Linked DNA regions of Homo sapiens. The protein of the gene in region 5 purifies or fractionates together with the protein of the main gene of each other region. This does not show direct contact. Each region holds a gene or a part of one and is shown on either strand. Other genes may lie near its edges. The genes, in order: ADD1, DENND1A, BCL7B, CSNK1G2, ATL2, FAM120A and LSM11.

The links.
Region 1: the proteins of ATL2 (region 5) and ADD1 purify together in Homo sapiens (affinity purification with mass spectrometry; one large-scale study listed by BioGRID and IntAct). This does not show direct contact.
Region 2: the proteins of ATL2 (region 5) and DENND1A purify together in Homo sapiens (affinity purification with mass spectrometry; one large-scale study listed by BioGRID and IntAct). This does not show direct contact.
Region 3: the proteins of ATL2 (region 5) and BCL7B purify together in Homo sapiens (affinity purification with mass spectrometry; one large-scale study listed by BioGRID and IntAct). This does not show direct contact.
Region 4: the proteins of ATL2 (region 5) and CSNK1G2 purify together in Homo sapiens (affinity purification with mass spectrometry; one large-scale study listed by BioGRID and IntAct). This does not show direct contact.
Region 6: the proteins of ATL2 (region 5) and FAM120A purify together in Homo sapiens (affinity purification with mass spectrometry; one large-scale study listed by BioGRID and IntAct). This does not show direct contact.
Region 7: the proteins of ATL2 (region 5) and LSM11 purify together in Homo sapiens (affinity purification with mass spectrometry; one large-scale study listed by BioGRID and IntAct). This does not show direct contact.

Annotation. Positions count from the first base shown.
Region 1 is NC_000004.12:2,846,844-2,850,343, reverse strand, and holds part of ADD1 (alpha-adducin), read right to left. Parts: intron 1-3,500. UniProt on the Homo sapiens protein: Membrane-cytoskeleton-associated protein that promotes the assembly of the spectrin-actin network. Binds to calmodulin.
Region 2 is NC_000009.12:123,920,127-123,923,626, forward strand, and holds part of DENND1A (DENN domain-containing protein 1A), read right to left. Parts: intron 1-3,500. UniProt on the Homo sapiens protein: Guanine nucleotide exchange factor (GEF) regulating clathrin-mediated endocytosis through RAB35 activation. Promotes the exchange of GDP to GTP, converting inactive GDP-bound RAB35 into its active GTP-bound form.
Region 3 is NC_000007.14:73,551,191-73,554,690, forward strand, and holds part of BCL7B (B-cell CLL/lymphoma 7 protein family member B), read right to left. Parts: intron 2,480-3,500; coding exon of another isoform or gene 2,358-2,479; intron 1,053-2,357; coding exon 977-1,052; intron 1-976. UniProt on the Homo sapiens protein: Positive regulator of apoptosis. Plays a role in the Wnt signaling pathway, negatively regulating the expression of Wnt signaling components CTNNB1 and HMGA1.
Region 4 is NC_000019.10:1,965,172-1,968,671, reverse strand, and holds part of CSNK1G2 (casein kinase I), read right to left. Parts: intron 1-3,500. UniProt on the Homo sapiens protein: Serine/threonine-protein kinase. Casein kinases are operationally defined by their preferential utilization of acidic proteins such as caseins as substrates. It can phosphorylate a large number of proteins. Participates in Wnt signaling.
Region 5 is NC_000002.12:38,293,454-38,297,273, forward strand, and holds the end of ATL2 (atlastin-2), read right to left. Parts: intron 3,248-3,820; coding exon of another isoform or gene 3,233-3,247; intron 3,138-3,232; coding exon of another isoform or gene 3,030-3,137; exon of another isoform or gene 2,661-3,029; coding exon 2,541-2,660; 3' UTR 501-2,540; downstream 1-500. UniProt on the Homo sapiens protein: Atlastin-2 (ATL2) is a membrane-anchored GTPase that mediates the GTP-dependent fusion of endoplasmic reticulum (ER) membranes, maintaining the continuous ER network. It facilitates the formation of three-way junctions where ER tubules intersect.
Region 6 is NC_000009.12:93,510,685-93,514,184, reverse strand, and holds part of FAM120A (constitutive coactivator of PPAR-gamma-like protein 1), read right to left. Parts: intron 1-3,500. UniProt on the Homo sapiens protein: Component of the oxidative stress-induced survival signaling. May regulate the activation of SRC family protein kinases. May act as a scaffolding protein enabling SRC family protein kinases to phosphorylate and activate PI3-kinase.
Region 7 is NC_000005.10:157,750,212-157,753,711, forward strand, and holds part of LSM11 (U7 snRNA-associated Sm-like protein LSm11), read left to right. Parts: intron 1-1,178; coding exon 1,179-1,318; intron 1,319-3,500. UniProt on the Homo sapiens protein: Component of the U7 snRNP complex that is involved in the histone 3'-end pre-mRNA processing. Increases U7 snRNA levels but not histone 3'-end pre-mRNA processing activity, when overexpressed. Required for cell cycle progression from G1 to S phases.

The DNA.
Region 1 (3,500 bases), on a different chromosome or scaffold from region 5:
GTGAGCCAAGATCGCACCACTGCACTCCAGCCTGGGCAAGAGAGTGAGATTCAGTCTCACAAAAAACAAAAAACAAAAAGATTTGCCTATTGAAGACATTTCACATAAGTAAAATCATGAAGCACATGGTCTCTTGTGTCTGGCTTCTTCCACTTAGCATGTTTTCAGAGTTCATCCATGTTGTACCAGGTATGAGTGCTTCAATCCTTTCTATTGCCAACTACTATTCCATCGTATGAACAGACCACATTTTGTTGATCCACTCATTAGCTGATGGACATCTGGGGTGTTTCACTTTTTGTCTGTTAAACATAATGCTGCTCTGAACATTCACACACAAGCTTTTGTACGGACATATGTTTTCACTTGGCCTTTGCATTCTCAAAGTGTTTTCACAACATTCTCTCTTTCATGTATTACATGGCTACTTAATTTTCCGATGGAGAAAAGTGAGGCTTGGGGCAGCTAAGTGACTTTCTCACCCACTCAACTACCCTCAGCAAACCACAGTAAACCCATAGTGAAGAGCCAGTACTCCTTTCATAATACCACACTGCCTATGGTTACGGCTCCCTCTCCTGTGAAATAAATTTCAAGCGACAGTGTGCAGATGAGGGAAAACATTTTTTAGGTAAGGAACTCCCTAAATCATTCTCAATACGTTAATCCACAAAGCAAATTTAAATTAAGCCCTTCAGAGTAAGAGAAGGAGAGAAGTGTTTGGGATGGGATATTCTAAAGGTCCCTCCCAAATGATGACTTTCTCCTCCCCATGCAAACAGCCACAGCTGCCATTCCAGGCTGCAGAGGCACACATGTAGTTACATCTACTGCGCCCCATTCCTGAGGCATGCCCTTTCCAGCAAATTTGAGATATACCTGTGGACTCTGTCCCCTAACGTCAGCCCCAGATGCCAGACTCCCTGGGCCCAAGGCCTAGATGCAGAGCTCGTCTGTTCTAATACAGATAACAGTATTTTGGAGGCATATATTGCTCAGATCAATTGTATGAACCCTCTTTCCCAACCTCATGAAGCACTGTCTAGGTTTATAATATTTCTGGTAATAAAGTTCAGAAAAAAACAATAATTATATTAATAATATAAGTCATTTGCTGACAGCTTAGTAGGTACCTTTTGGCATTTACTTCATTTAATCCTCACAATAACCATGTAAGATAGGGACTATTGTTACTTTAGTGTCCATACTTAATTATGTGGAGAAAATACACAGTTGGTAGGAGTATAAACCAACGTAACTTCTTAGGAGGATAATCTGGAAACATCTACGGAAAGTAAAAGTGTAATTACTCTTTGACATGGCAATCTCACTTCTGAGAATGTATCTATAGATATACTTCATAGGTGCCCAAAGATGGAAATGTAAGAATATTAATTGGGGCCAGGAGGGTAATTTGGAAATGTCTATGCAAATGAAAAGTGCAATTATTCTTTGACATAGCAATTTCATTTCTGAGAATGTATTTATAGATGTACCTCATAAGTGCCCAATATGGAGATGTAATATTAATTGGAGCACTGCTTATAACAGTAAAAACCTGGAAACAGGTCAGGTGCAGTGACTCATGCCTGTTATCCTAGCATATTCAGAGGCTGAGACAGGAGGATCACTTGAGACCAGGAATTCAAGACCAGCCTGAGCAACACAGCTCAGGCTTTTGAAACCTTATCTCAAAAAAAAAAAAAAATTAGCCAAGCCTGTTGGCATGAACCTGCAGTCTTAGCTACTTCAGAGTCAGAGGTGGGAGAATGGCTTAAGCCCAGGAGTTCAAGGCTGCGGCAAACTATGATCACATCACTATATTCCCGCCTAGGTGACAGAGCAAGAGTCTGTCTCAAAAAAAATAAATTAATTAAATAAATATATGCTCAACATGTTTAAGCTGACAGTTATCAAAAACAGTGTTACACATTAGTTATAACAACTGTTTAAAAAGGTACTTCTAGAAAAATTAAGCTCAAAAGGCAAACTGTATTAAATGTGCTTCCCCTCATTCCTTTAAACTCAAGGTTCCTCAATGTAGAAAGGCCAGAATAAGCATTAACAATTAAACAACTCTATTAAAGTTTAATATTATGCTATGTTAAGATTCCTATTTTTTTTTTTTTTTGAGACGGAGTCTCACTCTGTCCCAGGCTGGAATGCAATGGCACGATCTCAACTCACTGTAACCTCCGCCTCCTGGGTTCAAGTGATTCTCCCGCCTCAGCCTCTTGAGTACCTGGGATTACAGGCATCCACCACCAAGCCTGACTAATTTTTGTATTTTTAGTAGAGACAGGGTTTCATCATGCTGGCCAGGCTGGCCTCGAACTCCTGATCTCAGGTGATCCACCTGCCTCGGCCTCCCAAAGTGCTGGGATTACAGACGTGAGCCACCATGCCCAGCCTTGCCTCCCACTCTATTCAAAGTCATCCCTTTGCTCACTGAGATAGATGCATATCTGGTTGCCTCCTTAGGAAAGGCTTATCAGAAACTCAAAAGAAGGCAACCATTTGTCTCTCACCTACTTGTGACCTGGAAGCTCCCTCCCTGCTTCAAGCTGTCCCCGCCGTTCTGGACTGAACCAATGTACTTCTAGCATATATTGATTGATGTCTCATGTCTCCTTAAAATGTATAAAACCAAGCTGTGCCCAACCACCTTGGGCACATGTCAATCAGGACTTCTGGAGGCTGTGTCACAGGCACACATTCTCAACACTAGCAAAATAAACTTTCTAAGTTAACCGAGACCTGTCTCAAATTTTCGAGGTTCACGTGTTCATCTTGTTCTGAGACTGAAATGTGTACGGTGTGGGTTGAAACAGTGAGCAAGTAGAACCAAAATGTTTGGCTTAGAAGAAAAGTAGATACAGGTATATAAAAATGAGAAGGTTGAGTAGAATCCTAGTCTTACTTCCTTTTTTTTTTTGAGACGGAGTTTCGCTTTTGTTGCCCAGAATGGAGTGCAATGGCACTGCGACCTCCGCCTCCTGGGTTCAAGCGATTCTCCTGCCTCAGCCTCCCTAGTAGTGGGGATTACAGGCATGCACCACCATGCCCAGCTAATTTTTGTATTTTTAGTAGAGATGAGGTTTCACTGTTGTCCAGGCTGGTCTCAAACTCCTGACCTCAGGCGATCCACCTGCCTCAGCCTCCCAAAGTGCCGGGATTGTGAGCGACCGCACCTAGCTTGTTTTTTGTTTTTGTTTTTGTTTTTTTGAGACGGAGTCTCGCTCCGTGTCGCCCAGGCTACAGTGCAACGGAGCGATCTCCACTCACTGCAAGCTCCGCCTCCCGGGTTCACGCCATTCTCCTGCCTCAGCCTCCCGAGTAGCTGGGACTACAGGCATCCGCCACCACGCCCAGCTAATTTTTTGCGTTTTTAGTAGAGACGGGATTTCACCATGTTAGCCAGGATGGTCTCGATCTCCTGACCTCATGATCCGCCCGCCTCGGCCTCCCAAAGTGCTGGGATTACAGGTGTGAGCCACCAC
Region 2 (3,500 bases), on a different chromosome or scaffold from region 5:
AAAGAATAAAAAATCACTTTAAGGCCGGGCATGGTGGCTCAAGCCTGTAATCCCAGCACTTCGGGAGGCCGAGGCGGGCGGATCACCTGAGGTCAGGAGTTTGAGACCAGCCTGGCCAAACTGGAGAAATCCGTCTCTACTAAAAGTACGAAAAATTAGCCGGACATGGTGGCAGGTGCCTGTAATCCCAGCTACTCAGGAGGCTGAAGCAGAGGAAGCTTGAATCCAGGAGGTAGTAATTGCAGTGAACCAAGATCGTGCCACTGCACTCCAGCCTGGGCGACAAGAGCAAGGCTCTGTCACACACACACAAAAAAAACACTTTAAAAAGACTGAAAAGTAGTACCAGTTAAACAGAGATAAATATAAATTATTTGTATAAATCTTTTATAAAACTGAATAGATTTCCAATATTTATGATAAAGGGAACATTAAGTGGTTTTTTTACTTCAAGACAGGGTCTTGCTCTGTTGCCCAAGCTAGAGTACAGTGGTGCAATCTCAGCTCACTGCAACCTCCCCTTCCCGGGTTCAAGCAGTTCTCACACCTCAGCCTCCCAAGTAGCTGGGATTACAGGCATGCGCCACCATGCCCAGCTAATTTTTGTAATTTTTTTTTTTTTTTTTAGTAGAGATGGGGTTTTGCCATGTTGGCCCAACTGATCTCGAACTCCTGACTTCAAATGATCTGCCTGCTTCAGCCTCCCAAAGTGATGAGATTACAGGTGTGAGCTACCGGGCCTGGCTGGGGACATAAGTGTTCTTAAATGTTATAATTCTAATTGTTTGCACGCTCATCTTACCTGTCTTAGTAGACTATAGGCTTCCTTTCTTCCCAACCAGCAAGAGCAATAGTGCTTTGTATATATCAGCATCTCAATCTTTCAAACAAATTCAGTGAAATACACTACACGTCATCCTAACATTCTTACTGAAAGGAAGCAAATACTTTGGTTTTTAAAAACAAAACCAAAAAAAACTGTAATACTATAAAAAGGAACATACTTGCTGTTTTTTAACTTGTTTTTTAACTCCAGGTTGTTCAGACAACTGTGTTTTCTCCTCTCCAAGCAATATTAATGATAGCTGCCATTTAATAAGCAGTCATATCTCCACTGAGAACTAGGCACAATATCTCTTTTAATTATCACAACAACCCTGTAGGTTAATTTATTAGCTTCCTTCCATAAATATTATTTTTTTAACCTGAAGCTCAGAAATTTAGAACTCAGAGGGAGAATGTATAGTTCTGGGAACTCAGTACTCCAATGCTCACATACCCCTGGCTCCTCTCACACCCCGGAGTTCAAGAACTGCCAGCGTGGAGTCAAACAGTATCTTCTCTAGATTGGTTTCCTTCCTTCCATTTATTCATACAGCCTATGCGAGATCAATGCAACACCCTCAAACCTTTCCTGTGGCTAAAGTGAATTCAAAAGGTGGTTTTTCTTTTCCCCCTCTCTAAATCTACCATGAACAGATTTGCCTTCAGCAATTTAGTCCAGCCCACTTCAAGTCTTACTCATTCAATAAAGCACACACATTCACTATGGATCCCTCAAAGATTCCTTCCATTCTCAATGCAGACTAAAATGCCTTATCCCAATTATAACTTTTCACTTTTCCTCAGAAAAGCAAACATATAACCAGTCCTCACCTCACAAATACTCCATTTGTAACATAACTCTGCTAACCTTGGCAAGTCATCTTTGATTCTTCTTTTGCCTCTTACGTGTAATTTGTCACCAAGTCTTGTCATTTCTACTTAAAATCTCTCAAAGCCATCCTTTTTTTTTTTTTTCTTTTTTCTTTTTGAGACAGGGTCTCACTCTGTCACCCAGGCTGGAATGCAGTGGCGTGATCTTGACTCACTGCAACCTCCGTCTCCTGAGCTCTGTGGGAGCTCAAGTGATCCTCCCACCTCAGCCTCCCAAGTAGCTGGGACCACAGATACATGCCACCACACCTGGCTAATTGTTGTATTTTTTTGTAAAGACAGAGTTTCATCATGTTGCCCATGCTGGTCTCAACTTCCTGGACTCAAGCCATCCACCCTCCTTGGCCTCCCAAAGTGCTGGCATTACAGGCATGAGCCACCACGCCCGGCCTGTCATTCCTTTTCTTTACACTGCCAAAACCTTGCTCTGGACCTTGATCTTCAGCAGTAAAAACTATTTACACAGTTCCACAATCCAGTGGCCTCCCATTTTTTTCCATGCATTCTTCCTATCAGTAAAAAAGTGAGCATACATCTGATAAATATCCATAAATTATAATAATGCCTTACTATACTAACACATACATTAAAAAATACAAACTTTGAAGGTTGATATAAAAATAAATACAATTTCTAACATATTCTCACGTTCCAATGCGTCATCTTGTAAAAGCCAGAGATATCACTGTTCTAAACTGCTGCTGCCAGGGTAATCTACCTAAAAACCCAAATCTGATCATAGTACATCCCCAGTTCAACCCTTCAATGGCATCATATCCCACTGGCACATGCCTACTTCATCAACTTCCTCTCCTGTAATCTTTATCCTTATATCCTGTATTTCAGCTTTACCTTTTATCTCCCCATGACTTTTGCATACACAGTTCCCTATATCTGGAATGCCCTTGCCCTCAACAGTTACTGATTTGTACATAACAGTATCTTGAAGAGGGAAACACATTCTAAATGTCATAACCAACGTCCAAATGAACTTTTGGAATGTCACCTCTCTTTTCTATAGGAACATATATGTATTTTAACATATCTTTTCTTACTTTATTTGGCTCCTTTTCAAGTCCTGAATACTCGGAAAGAATGGGTACGGATTCCAATAAAAGTAGAGAACAAAACAACTTCATTTTGTTTATTTTTCTTCCTTGTTTATCTTTCCATGTCCCTACAAAGCCCCTTTAAGCAAAAAGGATGTTACGAACCCAGAGATTAGCTCTCCCTAGGGCCAGGAAAAAGGCTGGACCTTTGCAACTGCAACCGGAACTCCAGCCAGGAACTTACACAGATTTAATAACTCAATGCAAACATACTTTCCTAGAGCAATACTCCAGGTCTTACCTTCTGTTTCAACCTTCCTATCTGCTGTACAATGCCCTCTAAGTTGACTACAATGGCTAAGAAAAGAGTGATGGAGTAGCACCAACATGTTTTCCAGAAAAGTCATGAAAATTCAAGTGGCTGACTCTGAGCACTAACGATGGAGAGCTTGGTCTTCAAAGAGACTTTTATTCCACCACTCCAAGTCTCTCTACATTCTCCTTTGGGGACAGGGAGGACAGCACTGTGGCGGAGAAAGGGAAGAGGGGAATAGGCATTAGAGGAAGAAGGCCTGGAAGGAAGTCACATTCCAATTCTTGGTCTCATCACAAAGCAGAGAGATACGTTAGTTGTGCTATACAACAGGCCTCAAGAAAAAGCAAACTTTTTGTGTATTTTGGCAATGGGATCCTTTAAACAAACTGGAGCAGAGCTATCATAAGCCAACACTGCTC
Region 3 (3,500 bases), on a different chromosome or scaffold from region 5:
TTTACGGGCCATTTGGCCTTATGGCAACCACTCAATCTGCCACTGTAATTCAAAAGCACCACAGACAATAAGGAAATCAGTGGGCATACTTATGTGTTTGGTTTTTTTTGTTTGTTTGCTTATTTTCGAGATGGTGTGTCACACTGTTGCCCAGGCTGGAGTGCAGTGGCGGGATCTTGGCTCACTGCAACCTCTGCCTTACAGGTTCAAGCGATTCTCCTTGCCTCAGCCTCCTGAGTAGCTGGGATTACAGGTGCCTGCCAGCAGGCCTAGCTACTTTTTTTGTATTTTTAGTAGAGACAGGGGTTGCACTATGTTGGCCAGGCTGGTCTCGAACTCCCGACCTCAAGTGATCCGCCCACCTTGGCCTCCCAAAGTGCTGGGATTACAGGCGTGAGCCACCACGCCCAGCCAGTTATGTTCTAATAGAACTATACTGACAAACCTAAGGAATACGCCAGGGCTGTAGTTTGTCAAGCCCTGGAAAAGAGGCTTGGGTTAAGGGAAAGGAATAAAGTAGGAAAATAATAAAGAGAGGCCTTGCATGGACCAATAACAGGGTACCTTGAAGTATTTTCCACTCAATTCTGGGCAAATAAATTCCTTTAATTAAAAGGCAATTAGGCCGGGTGCAGTGGCTCACGCCTGTAATCCCAGCACTTTGGGAGGCTGAGGCAGGTGGGTCACGAGGTCAGGAGTTCAAGACCAGCCTGACCAACATGGTGAAACCCCGTCTCTACTAAAAATACAAAAATCAGCTGGGTGTGGTGGCAGATGCCTGTAACCCCAGCTACTTGGGAGGCTGAGGCAGAGAACTGCTTGAACCCAGGAGGTGGAGGTTGCAGTGAGCCAAGATCATGCCACTGCACTCCAGCCTGGGTGACACAGCGAGACTCCGTCCCAAAAAAAAAAAAAAAGAGGCAATCAAATAAAGAAATAAAGAAAATGGTATCTTTTGATTTTCTTCCACACTTACCTCCTTGCTGTCTGTCACAGGAACCCACTTAAATATCCTCAGGGACGTGTCACCCACAGTCACCCACTTCTTCTCCCTAAAAGAAAGACACTTCTTAGAACGGATAAAACAATGCAATGTGTTTTCTGTTCATCACTTGTGTTTTTCTACTACTCAGCAGATCATTCCTTCAATCTGGAATCCTTCTGAACTTCCTCTTGGTGGGGTATGGTAGCTCACACCTGAAATCCCAGCACTTTGAGAGGCTGAGGCAGGAGGATCACTCAAGCCTAGGAGGTTGAGAACAGCCTGGGCAATTTAGCGAGACCTCATCTCTAAAAAAAAAATACAGGCCAGGCGCAGCGGCTCACGCCTGTAAACCCAACACTTTGGGAGACTGAGGTGGGCAGATCGCTTGAGGTCAGGAGTTCGAGACCATCCCGGCCAACATGGTGAAACTCTGTCGCTACAAAAAAAAAACAAAAAGTAGCTGGGCGTGGTGGCGTGTGCCTGTAATCCCAGCTACTCCGGAGGCTAAGGTGGGAGGATCCCTTGAGCCCAGGTGGCAGAGGTTGCAGTAAACTGAGATCACGCCACCACACTCCAGCCTGGGCAACAGAGACCCTGTCTCAAAAGAAAGAAAGAAAAAAAAAAGGATGTGGGACATAAGGCTGGAAGGTAGCACACACAGCACCATATTCTTTTTTACTTGCATGCGAGTTACTTTGAGTGCTTTTCTCTTTACCAAATATATGAGTTCTATTACTACATTCCTTTTCTTTGTTTGTTTTAGTGAGACAGGGTCTCGTTCTGCCTCCCAGGCTGGAGTGAAGTGGCACAATCATAACTCACTGCAGCCTTGACCTCCTGGGCTCAAGCAATCCTTCCACCTCAGCCTCCTGAGTAGCTGGGACTAGAGGCGCACACCACCACGCCCAGCCAAATTTTTATTTTTTGTAGAGATGGTTGGGGTGGTGGGGTGGGGGTGGGGGGTCTCTCTTTGTTGCCCGCGCTGGTCTTGAACTCTTGGTCTCAAGCAGTCTGCCCACCTTGGCCTCCCAAAATGCTGGGATTACAGGCATGAGCCACCACACCTGGCCTCCTGTGTCCATTTAAAGACCCTTCCAAGGGGCAAACAATCTCAGGAGAGACACCTGCTGCTGGGGGGTATGGCCTGGTGGGTGTGAAATGTTAGGAACCTTTCCCTTTCTGGGTTACTAAGACTGCATAAAGAAAAAGAAAACTAGGCCAGGCGCGCTGGCTCACACCTGTAATCCCAGCACTTTGGGAGGCCAAAGTGGGCGGATCACGAGGTCAAGAGATCGAGACCATCCTAGCTAATACGGTGAAACCCTGTCTCTACTAAAAATACAAAAAATTAGCTGGGTGTGGTGGCACGCACCTGTAGTCCCAGCTACTCAGGAGGCTGAGGCAGGAGAATTGCTTGAACCTGAGAGGCAGAGGTTGCAGTGAGCCGAGATTGCGCCAATGCACTCCAGCCTGGGTGACAGAGCGAGATTCCGTCTCAAAAAAAAAAAGAAAGAAAACTAGTCTAAAGAAATTTTTAAATTTCAACTTTGAAGTTCAAAGCTTTGTAGAAATCCTGTCTCTTGCTGTGTTCCAAAGGGGTAAAAATGGCAGAGTTTATCAGTCCACTACGCTCACGAAATAAGCAAAGGGATAAGCCTTGCACAAGGTCACTCTCTAAATGACTAAGGACCCCCAACTATCTACACCAGATTAGAATGCCACTGTTCTGAGCTTACCCACAGAGTGCCTTCGAGGTCTGCAAACAAATGTGTGGAGGAGATAGAACAAAGGAGACTTTTTTTTTTTTTTTTTTTGAGATAGGGTCTCCGTCACCCAGGCTGGAGTGCAGTGGCGTGATCACCACTCCTTGCGGCCTCAAAATCCCAGGCTCAGGTGAATCTCCCATCTCAGCCTCCCAAGTAGCTGGGACTACAGGCCACCACGCCCAGTTAATTTTTTGTATTTTTAGTAAGGATAGGGTTTCACCATGTTGCCCAGGTTGATCTTGAACTCCTGGGCTCAAGCGATCCTCTTGCCTCAGCCTCTCGAAGTGCTGGGATTACAGGTGTGAGCCACCGTGCCCAGCCTCTCCTTCATTCCAAGAAGGTTATTCCCTAAGCGTGCAGGCAGAGAACAAATTTGCTTATTTTAAGGTCCACCAATACCTTAAGAGGTACTTGCTGTCAGTAGGAACAAGGGTCAAATGCAGGGAACTGCTTTGTCACAGATCTGAGCCAACTTCTCAAAGAGTCAAGTCCAAATATGAAGTCACGAAAAAGCAAAAAAAAAGCAACTGCTGTTGTAGTTGTTGATGCTGTTCAGCAAATGATGACATAATAGGGCCGGGCACGGTGGCTCACACCTGCAACCCCAGCACTTTAGAAGGCTGAGGTGGGTGGATCACTTGAGCCCAGGAGTTCGAGACCAGCCTGGGCAATATGGTGAAATCCTGTCCTCACTAAAAATACAAAAATTAGCCGGGCATGGTGGCGCACACCTGTAGTCCCGACTACTC
Region 4 (3,500 bases), on a different chromosome or scaffold from region 5:
TGAGAAGGAACACGCAGTCCCTGCTCCCGGGATGGTGGGACCCCAGCCCACAGCCCCTCGCTGAGTCTGCACCACCTTAAATGCTCCCGAGCCCAGAGCTGAGGGCCCCAGAGCCTGTTGCCACCCACAGAGAAACGCCGTGTCTGGACAGGGGCTCATGGCTGAGGGGACTCTGTGCAGGTCGCTCTCTGGAGCGAGGGGGCCAGCCAGCCCCGGCTGGCATGGAGCCCAGTCTCAGCGCAGGCCCCGACGGGAGGCAGGACGGTCCCCAGCAAGGAGCCTCGGGACAGCCTGGGGAGGAGGGAGGAGGGAGGAGCCCCACCTGCAGAACTGAAGGGTGGTCAGGGGCAGCCTGGGGAGGAGGGAGGAGCCCCCACCTGCAGAACTGAAGGGTGGTCGGGGGCAGCCTGGGGAGGAGGGAGGAGCCCCACCTGCAGAACTGAAGGGTGGTCTGGGGCAGCCTGGGGAGGAGGGAGGAGGGAGGAGCCCCACCTGCAGAACTGAAGGGTGGTCAGGGACAGCCTGGGGAGGAGCCCCACCTGCAGAACTGAAGGGTGGTCGGGGGCAGCCTGGGGAGGAGGGAGGAGGGAGGAGCCCCACCTGCAGAACTGAAGGGTGGTGGGGGCAGCCTGGGGAGGAGGGAGGAGCCCCCACCTGCAGAACTGAAGGGTGGTCGGGGGCAGCCTGGGGAGGAGGGAGGAGCCCCACCTGCAGAACTGAAGGGTGGTCGGGGGCAGCCTGGGGAGAAGGGAGGAGGGAGGAGCCCCACCTGCAGAACTGAAGGGTGGTCGGGGGCAGCCTGGGGAGAAGGGAGGAGGGAGGAGCCCCACCTGCAGAACTGAAGGGTGGTCGGGGGCAGCCTGGGGAGGAGGGAGGAAGGAGGAGCCCCACCTGCAGAACTGAAGGGTGGTCGGGGGCAGCCTGGGGAGGAGGGAGGAAGGAGGAGCCCCACCTGCAGAACTGAAGGGTGGTGGGGGCAGCCTGGGGAGGAGGGAGGAGCCCCACCTGCAGAACTGAAGGGTGGCAGCTGTGGTGTTAACTGGACGCTCGGGTGGTGCAACCCCAGGGACGCGGCTGTCACCTCGTCGCCCTCAAGCCAGGTACCCGCCCAGGAGGCCAAGAACCCTGCACCGGGAGCCACCGCAGCCACCTGCCTGTCTGCACAGATCCTGCCGGGTCCTCCCTGACCCAGGCCCCAGCCACCCCTGGCCCCATTCTAGGGCTCCAGACAGACAGAAGCCCCACCCTCACTGAAGAAGGGGGACCACAGTTTGCTGCTGTGCCCCAGATGTGCAGGGGAAGAGGTTTCCTGCCAACCGGCAGGACGTAGGGGCCGCGGGTGAAGAGGGGCCGTGGGTGCACAGCCATCGCCGAAAATGTTAGGACAGGAACTCCCAGCTGAGTAAGCCACATCAGAAACGAAGGCACCGGCGTCACAAGCACTGCCCCCCTGGATGTGGCCCCTGCGTTCCGGTGCCAGAAACACCCTGTGGGGATCACAGGCCTTGGGTTCCGCACGGCAACAGCCGCTCGAATGTTCTGGTTTCCCAGTGCACACACAAGTTACGTTCACAGTATACCGTGGTCTAGGAAGTGTGCAGTAGCGTTGTGTCTAATCAAAGGACACACTTTAATTAAGCGGGGCGTGGTGTGCAAGCCTGTGGTCCCAGCTACTCGGGAGACTGAGGCGGGAGGATCGTTTGAGCCCAGGAGGCGGAGGCTGCAGTGAGCTATGATCGCACCACTGCACTCCAGCCTGGGGGATACAGCAAGACCCCATCTTAAATAAATAATAAAGAAATAAAAATACTTTACTGCTAAGCAATGGTAATGATCATGGGAACCGGGAGTGGCCCTAATCTCCCCGGAGAAGGGTCTTGCCTCAATGTGGACGGCGGCTGACTCGTTGGGGCGGTGGCTGCTGGAGGCTGGGGCAACTTCTTAAACTATGACCACAAAAAAGTTGGCCACAGCGATGGACTCTTCCTTTCATGAAAGATTTCTCTGTGGGGCGTGATGCTGTCTGATAGCATTGATTACCCACAGCAGAACGTCTTTCAGAACTGCAGTCGGTCCTCTCAACCCGGCCGCGGCTTCATCAACCGAGGTTCCGGGCTGTTCCAAGTTCTTTGTCCTCATTACCCCCAGGTTCACAGAATCTTCACTGGGACTAGAGCGCAACTGAAGCAACTCCCCTGCTCACCCTTCAGAGGCAACTCCTCACGTGTTAAAGTTTTCTCGCGAGACAGCGACAATGCAGTCACATCTCCAAGTCCTTCTCATTCTAGTTCTCTTGCTGCTTCTAAAACCTCTACAGTCCCTCCTCCACTGAAGTCCTGAACCCTCACAGTGATCTTTCAGGCCTGGGACCAACTTCTTCCAAACTTCCGCTCATCCTGACATGTTACCTCCTCCCATGGATCACGCGTGTCCTTCACAGCCTCTAGAACGGCAAAGCCTTTCCGGGGGTTTCAATTTACCCAATTTCCCCAGCTCCATCAGAGGAATTGCTCTCCACGGCACCTACAGGCACCTAGAGCCTTACAAATGTATTTCTCAATAATGAGAGTCATGGGCGGCTGCGGTGGCTCCTGCCTGTAACCCCGACACTTTGGGAGGCTGACGCAGGCAGACTGCTTGAGGCCGGGAGTTCAAGACCAGCCTGGGCAACACAGGGAGACCCTATCTTTACAAAAATAAAAACAAAATTAGCCAGTCATGGCGGTGCGCACCTGTGGTCCTAGCTACTTAGGAGACTGAGGTGAGAGGATCGCTTGAGCCTGGGAGGTGGAGGCTAAAGTGAGCTGTGATTCTGCTTCTCCACTGCAGCCTGGGAGACACAGTGAGACCGTGCCTCAAAAACACTAAGACTTGGCCAGGCACAGTGGCTCAGGCCTGTAGTCCCAGCACTTTGGGAGGCTGAGGCGGGCAGACTGCTTTGAGCTCAGGAGTTCAAGACCAGCCTGAGGAACATGGTGAAACCCCCTATGAAAAAATATAAAAATTAGCTGGGCATGGTGGCACGCACCTGTAGCCCCAGCTACTCAGGAGGCTGAGGAAAGACAATTGCTTCAACCCGGGAGGTGGAGGATGCAGTGAGCCAAGATCGTGCTACTGCACTCCAGCCTGGGTGACAGTGGGACACCTTGTCATGCATAAATAAATGAATGAATGACATGTCAAGGAGTCATCTTGATTTCCGAGTCATTCATTCATTCATTGATCCACAGGCTACAGGCTGGATGTTGTGCTAGCAGGGATGGAAACAATGATCTTTTTTTTTTTTTTGGAAACGGAGTCTCGCTCTGTCGCCCAGGCTGGAGTGCAGTGGCACAATCTCGGCTCACTGCAACCTCCGCCTCCTGGGTTCATGCCATTCTCCTGCCTCAGCCTCCTGAGTAGCTGGGACTAAAGGCGCCCGCCACCACGGCCGGTTAATTTTTTGTATTTTTAGTAGAGACGCGGTTTCACTGTGGTCTCGATCTCCTGACCTCGTGATC
Region 5 (3,820 bases):
AGCTCAATTCCTCGGTCTAACTTCCAGCAAAATGTAAATCTGAAAGACAGGAGTTCCTAGGATCTAAGACTTCAGTAGAGAAGGTAAGGGAGCAATTCTCTGTGCTGCCTGGGAAACCCCCAATCTAGCTTTGACAGGAACCAATAACTGGAAGACTCCCCAAAGTCGCATTCTCTTTATGGCAGAGGCTCCCAACAGAATCCAAGTACAATAGTCATTTGATGAGTAATCTCTGGCCAAGTGAGAAGATGGCTACCAGATGCACAGCAACTCAAGCTAATTTTCATCCTCACTCCACGACTATCACACGAATGGAAAAAACCTGAGATGCGCAGATCCATTCTGGTCAAGTTAGAGGAAAGGAGGGAATCCAGGACATGAATGTTTAGGCTAAAGCTTAAAAGTGTGAAATGGACTTAAATCCTGTAGAGAATTGTCTTCTTTGAGTAAAGCACTCTTTTCTGACAAGAAATGTAAGAAAGCCAATGGTCTAGATTTTATAACTTTTTAAAAGTAAGCTGTCTTTAATTTCAGAAAATCTGCTATTATACAACAAATTATTTTTTCATTCATAAAAAACAGTCCACAGCATTCATAAAACAGGGTGGCAGAAGAAATAAAAAGACACTTTTCAGGTGGATTCTTTAAGAACAGATAAGTTAGCAATTTAATACAGATGAAAACAAATACAATCCATATAAAAACAGAATCTGAATGGGAGTGGGAGCGAAGATGTATCAACCAAAGTAAATTCAGAGTTTTCACACATGCAACTCAACACCTGCATTCTCTTCGCTTAAAAAGCAAACTAAGGGCCGGGCGCGGTGGCTCACGCCTGTAATCCCAACACTTTGGGAGGCCAAGGCAGGCGGATCACAAGGTCAGGCGATTGAGACCATCCTGGCTAAAACGGTGAAACCCCATCTCTACTTAAAATAGAAAACATTAGCCGGGAATGGTGGCACGCACCTGTAGTCCCAGCTACTCAGGAGGCTGAGGCGGGAGAATCACTTGAACCCAGGAGGTGGAGGTTGCAGTGAGCCAAGATCGCACCACTGCACTCCAGCCTGGGTGACAGAGAGAGACTCCGTCTCAAAAAAGAAACAAACAAAACTAGGTACTTTAATCGGTGTTCACAAAGAAGACCACAAAAGTACTGAAAAAATGCTAGCCTTACATATACCACCAAAAAAAAAAAAAGAGAGAGAAAGAAATTAACAATCCCCATCTACAACTAGGCTAATCATAGGTTTTCCCTTATAGAGACAGACACAGAAAAGTAACTTTTTACAAGCTTAGTTTTGAGGTACAATGCCTTAGAGCTCTCAACTGGGGTGTTTCCTGCTCATGCTCTTTTCACTATAAACAAATGTGGTTTATGAAGTGGAATACATACTTGAAAAATTCCTTAAAAAAGAATCACAAGTTTCATTTTATATATACAACAAATTTTTAATTATGTACTGAAAATAAATTACAGGAAATAACTTTAAAATGCAACAGAGGACAAAGTCACAATAAACATTCCCATTGAATTCCCTTGGTGGGCGGGGGGGGGGTGAGATTGCAGTGCTCAAGATAAATATCACAAATATATCAAAAACTTCAAATTGTCTATGCATTCACACACTGACATGAGCCACAAACATTCCTTTCACAGGGACAGTACTTATTTAGCCTACCACAGGACCAGATTTTGCCATAAACTACAAAACTTTTAATACAAAATCGTATTTATATATTTATAAGTCATATACATGCCCTATCTGTGATTTTAGAAAATAAAAGCTACACACTGTACAGACACTCTTAACTCATAGCTGTAGGCAACATTTTTGGATGGAATTTCTTCCCCAATAAAATTAATGGCATATTTTATATACATGAAGGCTAAACTGCAAAAAGACAGTTCAGTTTCCCAGATATGCATCTCCTTTTAGGGCAAGTTTATAAATTTAAAAAGGCAAGACAAATGTACACCTCAGAATTACTTTCTTAGCTACAAGAGTTGCCATGTAATTTCTGTGAAGTTTCTGATACATGCATTGATGTAATACTGGTATTGAAGGCAGTAAAGCAATATATACTTTTAATGTAGTGGCTCAATAAAGGCTTCATTGTCTTTCCAATCTGGTTCTTGAAACAGTGATTCATAAATTCTCTAAAAATTAAAATTTCAATGGGACACTGTGTTAAAGAGACTCTAAATAGATTTCTGAAAATATTTCCCTGAAATATCCTTTTACATAAGACAAATTCACTAACATTAGATTAAGTAAAAAGAAATAAAAGAGTTAAACATGGCACAAAGGTGCATGATTAACCAATGCTCCTCAGTCCATCTGCATGTCTTAGGAGCCATTAAAAGAATGCTTAAAACTAACAAACAATCTTCACACTCTGTGGCAGCCATCTGTGAAGCCAGTTACACTAAACTACTTCTACAGTTGATTGTAAACTTTGGTTTATTTTTATTTGAGTTCTCATTGTACAGCAAGCATGAAAAAAAAAGAGAGTGGAGTCCGTGAGGAGATGAACTGTCAGTCTGTCTTTAATCTGGCATGATGAGACACCTGGTCAGTCAGGCCTGCTTTGATAGAGTTTGTTACAGACTGCCTTATGTTTTCCTCCATCAAATTATCACCCAGGGGCTTCAATACCTGTGGTATGAGAAATGTGCAAAACAAACAAAAACATGAGGTAAAAAAAGAGTTACATATAAAAATAGATATAAAAATTCAATTCAAAGCAATGATGAAAATAACCAGGAATATGGGAAATAAAAAGATGCTTCTCTCAAAAAAACTTATGATGCTACTAGACATTTTATAATGCAACAAAAATTACTTTCCTCTTATTCAAACCATTTACAATTCCTATGAGATGGATGTGCAATTCCATACCCTATATGCAGCATCAAATCTGGTATGTATACAGCATTTATGCAGACCGGCCCAGACGGTCCTGCTTATTGTCCTACATGTGTAAGTGTGAACACTTCAGATAGAGAAAAAGGTTAAAAATACTGTCTAATTTTTCTTCTTGTTATTGTTGGATGACAGTCTCTGTCGCTGTGCTGATGAAAGAGCACGGTGAACCATTCGACGTCTAGTAACTTCAAACAGTTTGGAAAACACCTAAAACATGAAGTGATTTGTTAGGAGAATGAATCAGAGTGCCTCGAAGCTAAAGAGTTTAAGACTACAAGAATTTGAGACTGTAGGTTTCTCACCTTCCTGGGACTCCTCTGAAGCAAAAGAAAAGAGAAATGCAAAGAAATTTAGACAAGGTTTGTTGACACAGCACAGATCTCTGACTAGCTGATTACCTTACCTAAACTATACTGAAAATGATTTTATACACTTTAGATTCTTCCATTTAATTGTTTTGTAATAATGGTACCTCCAAAATCCTAGAATCAATGCTGTTTAAGAGATGAATATTTCTCAAAAGAAGATATTGTACAATTATTGAAAATTATATTGCAGAAAATGATCCAAAATTTTAAAATAGCTAATTTTTTCTTAAAAGTGAAGTTGCGATAGCTTTGCATCCATCTTCTATTAGAAGATATCAAAGAAACATCAAGTAGTGAGATTGAGATAAAAATTTAAATAGAATAAATATCCAAACATAAACTTCCCAATCGGATCTGAATAGAGCATTTCTCTAAAGAGTAAACACAAAATCCAAATTAATATAGTGGGTCACTTTATAAAATAACATCATTACAAGAAAAGTCAATATCCAATCAACTTTCTTCAAAAAAAATGGTCTGCTTCTTCGGTCTTCAAGTTTATAGCCAAAACAAACATGGACC
Region 6 (3,500 bases), on a different chromosome or scaffold from region 5:
GGCTCTTCCCCCTTCACTCGACACTTCTTACCGCTGCCTTGTTAAGAAGGTGCCTTGCTTCCCCTTCAACTTCTGCCATGATGCTAAGTTTCCTGAGGCCTCCCCAGCCATGCTGAACTGTGAGTCAATTAAACCTCTTTCCTTCATAAATTATCCAGTCTCAGGCAGTTCTTTATAGCAGTATGAAATCAGAGGAAAACACCAGGCAAGGGGAACACAACCCAAGAACCACCACCTCTCACACTGCCTACTGCCAATATAGGTAAGGACAGAAACATTCCCCAAACCTTCACTCTCGTTCTCTGAAAAGCAAATGTCCATGGCTGCATTCACAAGAGGTTCCCTAAGCCAACACTGGGCGTGGTGAGACCAGGAGTGCAAACGCTGTCCTTGGTCCGGCCTCCTGAGAGCCAAGCATGGTCAACAGACGCTGGGAGTGAAGCACAGATCATTGTTGACTCCCCCCAGAGAACGACCAGGAATCTTACAGACTACAATTTATCTGAGGTTCCTGCCTTCCAAGGGCCTTCAGCTCGCAAGCTTTAAACACCATAGCCCTTCGATCCTGGCTCGCATCAAGAAAAAACCTTGGCAGAGCTTCCACCTTTGTACCAAACAAAAACAACTGCAGTATGAGAAGCTGGGAATAATGAGACTGGCATGTGTGTAGTCACAGACACCTCACACTTGCATGCAACACGCACATAGACACACGTGCACACAACACATTCCTAACTGACCGATAAGTCCACAAGTCCGTGCCTCTAAGGGATGTGTGTGCATGATCAAGTGGTCACTCACACACAGGCGTAGATACACACAGAAGTGCACACAAACACACCCCACACGTGCATGCATGGCGCACACACACGCATGGCACAGACAATACAAGGAGCTGTTCCTAAAACAGTATGTTGGCTAGATCTGCACCTCCACGTGTGCGATCAAAGTCGCTATTATTTTAAAAAACTGTTCACAGGTGATTCTGATAGGCAGGTTTGGTCCAAAGAATATTATAAAATCTATTCAAGCTCCAACCATATAATTTAAATCAATGTAAAATGTCTAGTGTATAATATCTTGTGGCTGACCTCACTTACCTAACTTTGGAATAATACAAATCTAAGGCTAGACTCATGTAGCACCCGCATTCAAGTGAAGATGATCATTTTTGTTTTTTGATTTTTGGCCATTTCATCCTAAAACCTTCCTTGAAAGCACAAACTTTCCTTTAAAGCAAACAAACAAACTACATTACAGCATAAAACCAAAGAATTCCAAGGAAAGAATATTTTCTAAAATCACATTCCAATCATTGACCTCAAATAATCCTCTGTGAATCCACAGAGCAAGCCACTATTCTATTAAAGCAGTCCAATAAGTGAATTAATTTGTCTGCATTTTCTGAAGGCTGCAGAAGTGCCTCCTAACCCAGGGTCTCCCTCTGCGGATTCAGGCCTTCGTCTATATCGGTTCTTGTTCTCCATGCCCAAGTGCAGCTGAGCAGAACCACTGTGTGTCCTCTCTACAACAAGAGGCATCTTTCTCAGAAGGGACACGGGGCTCCAGAGTAGAGGTCACACCACCAGTTTCTCACTCTCTTCCTTTCACACTTACTAGAGAGGTGGGCTTTCGGTAAAAAAAAAAATATGCAGACTGAAGACAAGAAGCAAAAGAAGAAAAAAAGGCCAAAAAAGTTTACTATATTTCAAAATATTTCGTAACTTTAAAAATAGTTTTTAAATAGTGAGAAGTTCTTTCAGAATGAAAAGAGACATGCACTGCAATCCCTCGGCTGTATGATCTTGACTTGTTACAGCTCAGTCACCTACTTCCTCAAAGGACTCACTTACGCCTATATGCAGCTGTGTGGCTTTTGCTCTGAATTAAAATACGGTAAAATTCTTTAAAGAAATGGTGTTAAACTGGAACCTCTTCTTAGAACTACAGTCGGCCTTACCCCAGTCCCCATTCCTAGCCCAACCTAACAAATGTTCCTCTATTACTTGGCATATGATCCTGAAATGTTAAACAAAACAAAGAGTAACAAAGTTAAGTCTTAAAAAACAAAAAACAAAACAAAACAAAAAACTGGCCTGGTTCAGTGGCTCATGCCTGTAATCCCACCACTTTGGGAGGCCAAGGCAGGCGAATCACTTGAGGTCAGGAGTTCAAGATCAGCCTGACCAACATGGCGAAAGCCCGTCTCTACTAAAAATAAAAAAATTAGCCAGGCATGGTGGCAGGCGCCTATAACCCCAGCTACTCGGGAGGCAGAGGCTGAAAATCGCTTGAACCCTGGAGGCAGAGGCTGTAATCAGCAGAGATCGTGCCACTGCACTCTGGCCTGGGTGACAGAATGAGACTCCATCTCATAAATAAATAAATAAACAGGCAGACATTGTATGATTTTCAAGTATCACCCAAAAAATATAGCTTTGAAGATGTCGAGTCCAAGATTAAACAAATCAATATAATCCCTACCACCTTTAATTTTCATCGCTTGCAAACACAGACAAGGCAAAACATTCCAACCATTTTAAGCATGTGCAAACAGACATGTTTACTAAATCTCAATAGTCTACAGAAGATAAAAAGTTATAGAAAGGAAACTGTCATGTGACCTGTTCCCGTTACACTACAGATCCAGTGTCCAGAGAGGCAGGGTGGGGCCTTGGAGCACAGTGGGAGGGCGCGGCGTCTGGCCATCCTATAGGGAGAGGAGGCCCCACAGAGCCGGTCAGGCTGGCCAAGCCTGGACTGAGACCAGGTGCAATGTCAGTGCCCAGGGAGGCAAAGGATGGAGGAGCAACTCCCAAGAGCTAAGAGCCTGGGAGCAGCTGATGCTGGCCCAAAGCCTGCGGTGTTGGCCAGACCCCAAGGGAAGAGCCAGAGGCCGGCGCCCAGAAGAGGAGGCCTGGTGACAGAAGGAGGCAAAACCTGAGGCATGATCAGCTTGAAGAAGGCTAAGTACAAGGCCCATGAGAAGTAAGATTATGAACTCAGTGAACAGGCACATCCTGCGTGGCACGTGAAAGAATTCGGAACAGCGGGAAAAATTAAACCACGGAAGCAAATTTCAAGTCAACAGAAACAAGAACTTTCTAAGAATGAGAGCAGTTCAACAATGAAAAGGGTTGCTTTACTGACTGCTGGACTGCTCATACAAGAACATTCTACAGCAGGGAGCTGGGCTGAACTTCTATAAACATTCCTCACTCCCCAAATCCTTTCCATCCCTGAATGTGGATAGTGAGAGGGTAGACATCACGAGATACGGCATCATTCGAATCTACCCAGTGCCCCAGTCTCAAGTAGCAAGTTTTATCTAAATGTATTCAGTTCCTGGGTTTAATTAATCAGTTTGAACAGAATACTTGTACTGACTGAGCAAAGTTCAAGAAGGCAGAATAGGAACATTACATCTCATCAAGGCTGGTTACGGTGGCTCATGACTACAATCCCGACACTGGGGGCTGAGGCAGTTCAGACCAGGCCAG
Region 7 (3,500 bases), on a different chromosome or scaffold from region 5:
CTGCACTCCAGCCTGGGTGACAGTGAGACCCTGTCTCAGGAAAAAAGAATGTGTACGGCTTTCTTTTGGGAGGTTTTATATACCATAGCCAGCATATTGTGAGAGCTGAGTTAACATGAAATAATAAAAATAAAATTCATCTTTCCTCCCACGCTCTGAGAATCCTTCATAATAAAAGCTGAAATTTATAGTCTCAATATTCTTCCTATGAGTCATTATCCTGCTCTCTTCACATGATGCTTATTAGTAGTGTCATAGGAGCCAGATACTCAGCCAGGTGCCTTTTACACTGTCAGGGCTTGGGCCAGAACCAGTGCTTTTCCTCCCAGAAACACCAGTGAGTCCAGAAAGCTTGTGCATGGAGTAGCTTTGGTGGGGTCAAAGGCCTTTCTTTCTGACAGGATTGTACATGTTTAAGGGCAGAGTGCAGTTTGTTTCCTTTGAACATGTAAACAAGGTTTTTGTTTTTTTGGAAGACTCAAGCTGGATATGTGATTCATGAATTGTCTTAAGGCACAGAATTGAGAAGGATCTCGCTGTTAATGTATACATTTAATGTTTGCGTGCCCGTGTGTGTGTGTGTTTCTCAAGATGGAGTCTTGCTCTGTTGCCCAGGCTGGAGTGCAATGGTGCGATCTCGGCTCACTGCAACTTCCACCTCCTGGGTTCAAGCCATTCTCCTGCCTCAGCCTCCTGAGTAGCTGAGATTACAGGCATGGGCCACCATGCCTGGCTAATTTTTGTATTTTTAGTGGAGATGGGGTTTCACCATGTTGGCCAGGCTGATCTCAAACTCCTGACCTCAGGTGATCCGCCCACCTCAGCATCCCAAAGTGCTGGGATTACAGACGTGAGCCACCACGCCCGGCCAACCCCAAAAGTTAAGTGATAGTGCATGTTAAAATCAGTGACATCGTGGAATAAGAGATATACCGGTAGTGAAACATTTGGCTGATATTCATACATATGGATGATCCACATTCTGTTGGAATCTAGTCTTGTGTCAGTGTGTGTTGGCCGTACGAGCCATGTTGCCCATTGGACCTTCCTGTTCCAATAGTGAGATTGTCACTCTACCATGGGCCACATGTTGCTGGCCGAAGTTGGGTGGTCGTGGCTTAATTCTGGGAATGAGGGCAGATATTAAAACTGTCCTGACTGTTCTTCTCTTGTTTCAGTGCACGAAGGCAGCCCTCTGGGTGAACTCCATCGCTGTATCCGTGAGGGGGTGAAGGTGAATGTTCACATCCGCACTTTCAAGGGACTTCGGGGCGTCTGTACAGGCTTCCTTGTTGCATTCGACAAGTTCTGGAATATGGTAATTAAGCCTTTCTCAAGGGGCTGGAGAACCTCCTACAGATTATATCTTCTATAATATTTAAAGGACCTGAGTAACTGCATTAAGTAAAACCCAAAAAATAACTTCTTAGAAGAACTAGAATTTTTGCATACTTTTGGGCAACAACAAGAAAAGGTCTTTTTATTGCTTCCTTCTCCTTAAGGCAGTGGCTCTTAACCAAGGTAATTTTGTTCTTCCTTCACTCCCAGGAACATTCATCAATGTCTGGGGACATTTTATTGTCACCACTATAGGAGAGGGTACTACTGGCATCTAATTGGTAGAGGCCAGGGTTGCAGCTAAACAGTCTACAACACACAAGATAGTCCCTCAACAACAAAGAATTATCCAATCTGAAAAGTCCTTAGTGCCAGGGTTGAGAAACCCAGCCTTAAGGACCAATTATTTTATCGGTTTAGTAATTTTTAGTTGATTTTCTACCAACCATTCTTTCATTAATTAAGAAAAACATTTATTGACTTCCCATTTTGGCTGAACCCCATGCTAGGTGCAAAAGTTTCAGAAAGGAACTTGCACTTTACAGTACATGGGAAGGTAAATAAGGATAGAGGTGAAGCAGACATCAGTAAACAAAGCATTTTGCATGATGTCTTTTTTTTTTTTTTTTGAGACAGTGTTTTGCTCTTGTCACCCAGGCTGGAGTGCAGTGGCACAATCTCAGCTCACTGCAACCTCCGCCTCCTGAGTAGCTGGGATTACAGGCCCCTGCCACCATGCCCAGCTGATTTTTGTATTTTTAGTAGAGACAGGGTTTCACCATGTTGGCCAGGCTGGTCTTGAACTCCAGACCTCAGGTAATCCGCCTGCCTCAGCCTCCCAAAGTGCTGGGATTACAGGCATGAGCCACTGCGCCCGGCCACATGGTGGTTTTATAATGAGGGAGTGTGCCACACTTCCTAGCCTTCTAGAGGCTTACTTTTTTTCTAGACATTTGTAGGAGAGAAGGGATATGTAATAGCACAACTATAATTTGAGGTAGTTAAGAACTACTAGGCTGCACGCGGTGGTTCACACCTGTAATCCCAGCACTTTGGAAGGCCGAGGCAGGCGGATCGCCTGAGGCCAGGAGTTCAAGACCAGCCTGGCCAACATAGGGAAACCCCCATCTCTACTAAAAATACAAAATTAGCCAGACATGGTGGCACAAGCTTGTAATCCCAGCTACTCAGGAGGCTGAGGGAGGAGAATCACTTGAAGCTGGGAGGCGGAGGTTGCAGTGAGCCGAGATCATGCCACTGCACTCCAGCCTGGGTGGCAGAGCGAGACTCTGTCAAAAAAAAAAAAAAAAAAAAAAGAACCACCAGAGCTTTCTGGTGTTTCTTTTCCATATGGTCTTCTATCTCCAACTTTCCTTTTCCCTGTGCTTTATCCCCATCCACGCATCCTCCTGGATAAGAACAGTAGCTGCTAACATATATTGAGTACCTGCTATGTGCCAGGTACTATACTGAGGGCTTCATATATTATCTCAATGAATGAGTTGTGGGTACTATTACTGTTCCATTTCACAAATGAAGAAATTGATTCTAGAGAGATTGGAATGTTGGTCGCAGATCACACTGTTAGTAAGTGGAAGTGCCAAACTTTTTCCTCGGCCTAACTCCTAAAACCATGTTTTTAACCATTAGGGAATTTGAATCCTAGCATCATCACTTGGTAACTGTGTGACTGTAAGCAAGATAATTTCTCTGAGCCTCAGTTTTCTCATTTCCAAAATGCAGGGAAAAATGTTTTATTATGATCTTTTTACCTTTGAAGAATTGAAGAGAATGTGTTAGATGATAGTGGTGATTATAACAGTACTGTCAGCTTCTATTTGTAGGGTGATTTACACTTTTCAAAGGAATTTGTCTTGTACTTCTCATTTGGTCCTAACAGCTGTCCTGTCGAGGTTGCTCTCGGTGATGAGAACTCACCAGCAATTCTGTGTGTAACCCTGGTTAATCTCTGTTAATTGCTTTCATAAGACATAGAAACTGAAGCGGGTAAAGAAGCAGTAATGTTCCTCAAAGTGGGATCTAAAGCCATCCTGCATCAGAATCACCTGGGGCTTCTGGTTGAAACAAAAGGTTCCTGGGCTTCATCCCAGACCTACCAAAACAGAATCTCCAGCAGAATAGCTTTGGGTTCGTATTTTAAT